Homo sapiens: one gene and its partner. The protein of the gene in region 1 purifies or fractionates together with the protein of each later gene. This does not show direct contact. Each region holds a gene or a part of one and is shown on either strand. Other genes may lie near its edges.

The links. The genes of interacting proteins can lie anywhere in the genome.
Region 2: the proteins of TTC29 (region 1) and SUPT6H purify together in Homo sapiens (affinity purification with mass spectrometry; 3 studies listed by BioGRID and IntAct, with this or other methods). This does not show direct contact.

The regions. Positions count from the first base shown.
Region 1 is NC_000004.12:146,935,865-146,939,364, reverse strand, and holds part of TTC29 (tetratricopeptide repeat protein 29), read left to right. Parts: intron 1-1,687; coding exon 1,688-1,771; intron 1,772-3,500. UniProt on the Homo sapiens protein: Axonemal protein which is implicated in axonemal and/or peri-axonemal structure assembly and regulates flagellum assembly and beating and therefore sperm motility.
Region 2 is NC_000017.11:28,689,705-28,693,204, forward strand, and holds part of SUPT6H (transcription elongation factor SPT6), read left to right. Parts: intron 1-377; coding exon 378-525; intron 526-1,216; coding exon 1,217-1,359; intron 1,360-3,500.

The DNA of each region.
Region 1 (3,500 bases):
TCGTGCCTCAGCCTCCTGAGTAGCTGGGACCACAGGCACGCAGCACTATGCCCAGCTAAGTTTTTGTATTTTTAGTAGAGACAGGATTCACCATGTTGGTCAGGCTGGTCTTGAACTCCTGGCCTCAAGTGATTCACCCGCCTTGGCCTCCCCAAATGCTGGGATTGTAGGGATGAGCCGCCATGCCCAGACTGAAAGGTGTAATGCTTTTAATCTACAAGGTCCCAAGGGCTGACTTCTGTTTTGGAAGAAGGAGGGTAGAGCCTTACTTGTAGGGTAGATTGGCAGGCAAGAATCAGCTCCTGAAATGATGCTGGGGCTTGAAAATGCATCATCAAACTGCTGCTGCCCATGAATGGCTGCTGAGCTACTCAAATTGTCACTGAGGAAATGCAGGACAGAGAAATTGATACATTTTGTCATAATTATCATATTAACTGATTGTGCTATTTTGAAATTGCCATTTGTAATTCTATTGACTTTTAGTAACATACATATTAGTTACCAATATAAATAGTTTGCATACGTAGGTTTATTTTCTTTATATGCCTACTTTTCCATTCCTGCAAGGCATAATGATCAAAGTATTAGGAGGTTTCTTTGTTCTCATGCCTCATTTTTAGTATTTCTAGGAAATACCAAAGCCCCTGGAACAAAATAAATACATTCAGCTAAACTAACATAAAAATTCTTTAAAAATAGTAAATCAAAATTTTCTTTTCCTATAGCGGAGAAATCTTTCAATGAATGCATAATTCATGTGTGTACACTATAATATATATACATACATATTTTTGTTTTACTTTTGAATAATGTAAAATATTTATGAAGTCTGAAAAAGCTTATTCTTTCTGTCTTTTTAAAGGATTTAATTTATATTTTGTTTTCAAGGTGAGCAAAAGCATAGCCAAATCTCATATCCTTAGGTTAGGATGAGTTTTAAAGAAAACGTTTTCTTGTATTCATTTTATTGAAGAAAAATATTTTTATCATACCCACAAAAGGCAAAGTTTGTATCAACATTCTTTAATAGCTTCTGAATAAAACACTGATATTTGTTTAGTTCCATATCAATCATCATAGTTATGAGAGGTTGATAGCATGCTTATTTTTAAAGGTGCAAAAGGGTGTGAAGAATGAACGCACTACAAGTATAATACATTTTCAATAAGGGCTTCTTAAAATCATTTTGCACCTTGAACCTTTAATAATTTGAGTTTTATGTGTGATTAAAAAAACTATTCAAAGAACATTTCAGGACAAAATTGAGTAATGTTTGGAATAAATTCACGTTACACATTTGAATCAAACAGGTGTTCTTGGCTCAGGATTCTGTGCCAAACAATATATAACTTCAGCAGTTGGAAAGTTACACCACGAAAAAATGTGAGCAAAATAGAAGGTCTTGTAAGCTTTGAGAAGACTCTTGAGTAGAAAGTGAATTATTTCAAGGTGTTGGTGTTTTATTTGTTTACACACTGGGTTTAATATTCTTCCTTATCATTTTCCATTCAGGAAAGATAAAATTTTGAAATGATCAACCAACGACCTAACTCTATAGCTATTGCGTTTATTACATATGGTATTATACCCTGAATATTTCTATTCTCCTGGTGGCATTTTATGTGTTTGGTAGCTTTTCAACTTGATAAGGCTGTGCTTTATTATTTCTTTCTATTTCATTTAGGTCTCAATTGATCAAAGAAAAAGATGACATAGATCATTATCTAGAGGTAAATTTCAAAGGATTATCAAAAGAGGAAGTTGCTGCGTAAGTACAACCTTTAAAGGTACTTTAATATAAAGTTTGTTTCTTTTGTCTTGATTCTTTATTGAAATTTCAATTTTCCTGTGTAATATACTTTTTCATTGGAACATGGCATTTAAAAATTAAAGCTCATATTAAATAGTGATAAGTCATGTCTATTGATCTCACACATATCAAAGTCTTTAATTTTATGGCTCTCAAAATTCCCATATTTACCAAGATATTATACTATCACATTTGCAATATTTAGTTAAGTCTGTGCTATTAATTGCTTGTTAACCTTCATTTTAAGGTGTGTTGTCTCCATGGGAAAGAAAAAAGCTTTAAGAAACAGATTTATATATCTTTTCTCCTGGTGATTAAAGAAAAAGAAACACCTTACTAATGTACTAATATGTCTCCTTTTCCACCCAAGCACTCACAAAAGAACCAATGGATCATACTTTATTGGTTAATTTTTAAATAATTCCAAATTGTCTAGATTTATTTTTTAGATGAACGATACAAACTTTGACATTTTATCACCAGTTAGAATCTAATTTATGGGATGAATAAAAGCAGTACAAAAATCAATGTAGGTTAGTGAGAAATGAATAGAAACTTAGAATAATAGCTAAACAAGTTTAATATTTCTTACCTATACTTAGTGGCTCTGTTATCACATCTTTTCATGTAAGTATTGAAAAATGGAAATCTTGTAAATTTACACGTATCTTATGGAATTCATTAATTGTTTCAATTAAAATATTTTATGCAACAAATGTTTGTAAAAGATTCTCTCTATTAATTTGTCTAATGCTGTGGGATTCTACTGAAAGGGTGTTGCTAATGATATTTTGGTGTAGGTTTGATATATTCTAAAGTTCTAAGTCTCTTGGTGTTTTCCATTTTATCAGATATTATCTTTGTCAATTTGCATATAACATGGAAAAACACAGTCATTTATTTTGTCAATAACTACTTTATAGAATGACAAAATTTTACAGTAGCTGTAATCACTCACTTCTGCAGAGCTCTATAGACTACCATGTATATGGTACGTGGGATTTTTGGCTAAATGCTATTCTGATGATTAATTATTTAACTTTCCGTGATAAACTGTTAGATAAAATTTAAGGCCAATATTGTATTATAGTACAACTACTTCTTAAAAGAAAAATATATGTATGCCGTATTTGGATTCTGATTTAAATATTATATCCAAATAGTTTTAATTGGCTTAATAATTGGAATTAAATTAAAAACTAAACATGCTACACATAATTTCAACAAACTAGAAGTCCATATACTAAAAGTCTACTGACATTTAAGTTTTCAGTGCAGGCTGAAGAAAAATTTTATCTAAGACAATGCAAAATAGGCTATAGTGATGAGTATTCTCTTAATATTATTTTTCCACTAAAGATACTGCCAAATTGATTTCAAATTCATCATTACACTATTGACAACAGTAACTCTGGGTAATTCTCAGGCCTTACTACAATATTCTCCTTAAAGTTTCCTGCACTTCAGTGCTTTCTTAGACCAAAGCTCTTTCTGTAAGATAGTGGATGCAAATCATTAGTATGGAGATAGCTTGTACACAGGTCATTATTATGCTTTTGATTGATACACATTCTAGACCTTGCCCTAGACAGACTAATTGAATAGCATAAAAAGGAGAAAATTGATGAATGATTTCAGCATCTCCCAGCAATGCCCAGCAGGTGCCATGAAGAATTATGCATAGTCT
Region 2 (3,500 bases), on another chromosome or scaffold:
GGGCTCCTCAAGGAAGTTTTTGGTCTGCTTGTTAAGGAGCCAGGGAAGTCTCAGAGATTGCCACCATAATTACAAGGGGCAGGAGGGAGTTGGGAGGATGTCAGTACTACAGTTTCCGTCTAGGCCCCCTTTCCTCCTTTCTAACAGCACAGCTTTGCATTTATCTGTGGACTCATTGGGGTTCCATAAAGCATTTTGATTACAGTGTTTCATGGCTAAGTTTGAAAACCACCTTTAGTAAATGTTGATGGAAAGAAAAGAAGAAGCCCTGACAGAAACTTACTCCCATCTGGAGAGGCCCGCCCCTTCCACGGGACTCCTTGAGGCTCAGGTTGGGGGGCAGCTGCAAGGCTCTTCTTGATGGGCTTCTTCCCCAGGGCTATGGTGACAAACACATCACACTCTATGACATCCGGGCAGAGCTGAGCTGTCGATATAAGGACCTCCGGACAGCCTACCGCTCTCCCAACACAGAGGAGATCTTCAATATGTTAACCAAAGAAACACCAGAGACCTTCTACATTGGTAAATTCTGGGGTCATTTTTTTATTGGGGGCAGGAGGTGTGTTTACTGTGTACATTCAAACCAAGCAGCAGTTCCAACAGATTGAGGCAGGTTTGTGTTGTACATGGGGAAGGCCAGGAGAGCATTTTAAAAGACTAAAGAGTCCTGGACTGGAAATCAAAACTGAATTTAAGGTCAAATGTGCTTCCAGTGTGCTATGGAATCTTCATGCAGTTAGTCTTCTTATAGGCTTTATTTTCCCCTATCATCAAATCAGGGGAACGGCCAGGCACAGTGGCTCATGCCTGTAATCCCAGCACTTTGGGAGGCCAGGGCAGGCAGACTGCTTGAGGCCAGGAGTTCGAGACCAGTCTGGGCAACATGGTGAAACCCCATCTCCACTAAAAATAAAAAATTAGCTGAGCGTGGTGGTGGGCACCTGTAATCCCAGCTACTCGGGAGGCTGAGGCAGGAGGATTCCTTGAACCTGGGAGGCAGAGGTTACAGTCAGCCAAGATAGCACCACTGCACTGCAGCCTGGGCAACAGAGCAAGACTTCATCTCAAAAATAAATAAATAAATAAAAATCGGGAAGAGTTCCCTCTTCAAGGATGGGAAGGAAGTCAGATATTCTGTCACTGAAAGGCTGGTGGAAAGAAGTGCTCTCCACATTCTCTGAGCCTGCTCCCCATCCTCTTTTCCTTCTTGCAGGAAAGCTCATCATCTGCAATGTCACTGGCATTGCCCACAGGCGTCCCCAGGGTGAGAGCTATGACCAGGCGATCCGCAATGATGAGACAGGGCTGTGGCAGTGCCCCTTCTGTCAGCAGGACAATTTCCCTGAACTAAGCGAGGTGTGTGCTGCAGCATTATCCTGCTCAGTGGATTTCCTTGGTTGAATGATCTCGGTGCCTAGAAGGGAATCAGAAATGAGGGTGTTCTAGATCATTCTCTCACCAAACAAGTACACAAAGAAGGAAGACGGACGGGAAACACACAGGTTTAGCATGAAGTCCCTTCTGAGAAGGCTGACATAGCTGGGCACGGTGGCTCACGCCTATAATCCTAGCACTTTGGGGGCCAAGGTGGGCGGTTCATCTGAGATCAGGGGTTCGAGACCAGCCTGGCCAAGATGGTGAACCCCCGTCTCTACTAAAAATACAAAAATTAGCCAGTTGTGGTGGCATACGCCTGTAATCCTAGCTACTCGAGAGGCTGAGGCAGGAGAATGACTTGAACCGAGGAGGCGGAGTTTGCAGTGAGCCGAGATCATACCACTGCACTGCAGCCTGGGTGACAGAATGAGACTTCATCTCAGAAAAGGAAAAAAAAAGGCTGACTTAGAAACTTCTTATGGTCGGCCGGGCGCAGTAGCTCACGCCTGTAATCCCAGCACTTTGGGAGGCCGAGGCGGGCGGATCATGAGGTCAGGAGATCGAGACCATCCTGGCTAACACGGTGAAACCCCGTCTCTACTAAAAATACAAAAAATTAGCCAGGCACGGTGGCGGCCACCTGTAGTCCCAGCCACTCAGGAGGCTGAGACAGGAGAATGGCGTGAACCCAGGAGATGGAGCTTGCAGTGAGCCAAGATAGCAGCATTGCACTCCAGCCTGGGCGAAAGAGCGAGACTCCGTCTCAAAAAAAAAAAAAAAGAAACTTCTTATGGTCGCTGGGTCAAAACAAAATGGCAGACAGGCATGGTGGCACGTACGTATAGTGCCAGCTACATCAGAGGCTAATTTGGGAGGATTTCTTGAGCCCAGGAGTTCGAGGCCAGCCTGGGCAACATAGCAAGACCCCATCTCCTTTTTTAAAAAAAGGGAGGGGCTGGCCGGGCGCGGTGGCTCACTCCTGTAATCCCAGCACTTTGGGAGGCTGAGGCGGGCGGATCATGAGGTCAGGAGATCGAGACCATCCTGGCTAACACGGTGAAACCCTGTCTCTACTAAACAATACAAAAAATTAGCCAGGCATGGTGGTGGGCGCCTGTAGTCCCAGCTACTCGGGAGGCTGAGGCAGGAGAATGGTGTGAACCCGGGAGGCGGAGCCTGCAGTGAGCCGAGATTGCACCACTGTACTCCAGCCTGGGCGACAGCGAGACTCTGTCTCAAAAAAAAAAAAAAAGTGGGGAGGGGCCAGGCCGGGCACAGTGGCTCATGCCTGTAATCCCAGTACTTTGGGAGGCTGAGGCAGTTGGATCACCTGAGGTCAGGAGTTCCAGACCAGCCTGACCAACATGATGAAACCCCATCTCTACTAAAAATATAAGGATTAGCAGGGTGTGGTGGTGAGACTCCTATCTCAAAAAAAAACACAAAAGGGAGGGGCCTCAGTTGCAGCTAAAGGGATCTAAGTTGGATAAACATAAAAGAGGATGGGGCACAGTCACACCAGTAATCCCAGCACTTTCAGGGGCCGAGGCAGGTGGAGTGCTTGCCCAGGAGTTCAAGACCAACCTGAGCAACATGGCAAAACCCTATCTCTACAAAATAAAATTAGCCAGGCTTAACCGGGTGCAGTGGCTCACGCCTATAATCCCAGCACTTTGGGAGGCCAAGGTAGGTGGATCACGAGGTCAGGAGATCGAGGCCATCCTGGCTAACACAGTGAAACCCCATCTCTACTAAAAATACAAAAAATTAGCTGGGCATGGTGGCGGGCGCTTGTAGTCCCAGCTACTCGGGAGGCAGAGGCAGGAGAATGGCGTGAACCCGGGAGGCAGAGCTTGCAGTGAGCCAAGATTGTGCCACTGCACTCCAGCCTGGGCAACAGAGCAAGACTCTGTCTCAAAAAAAAAAAAAAAAAAGATTACCCAGACTTGGGGGCGTGCGCTTATAGTCCCAGCTACTCGAGAGGCCAAGGTGGAAGGATCACTCGAGCCTGGGAGGTTGAGGCTGCAGTGAACCCTGATTGCACCACTACACTTCAGCCTAGGCAAAAGAGTGATACTGTCATAAGAAAAAGATGGCTAGGTGTGGTGGCTCACGCCTGT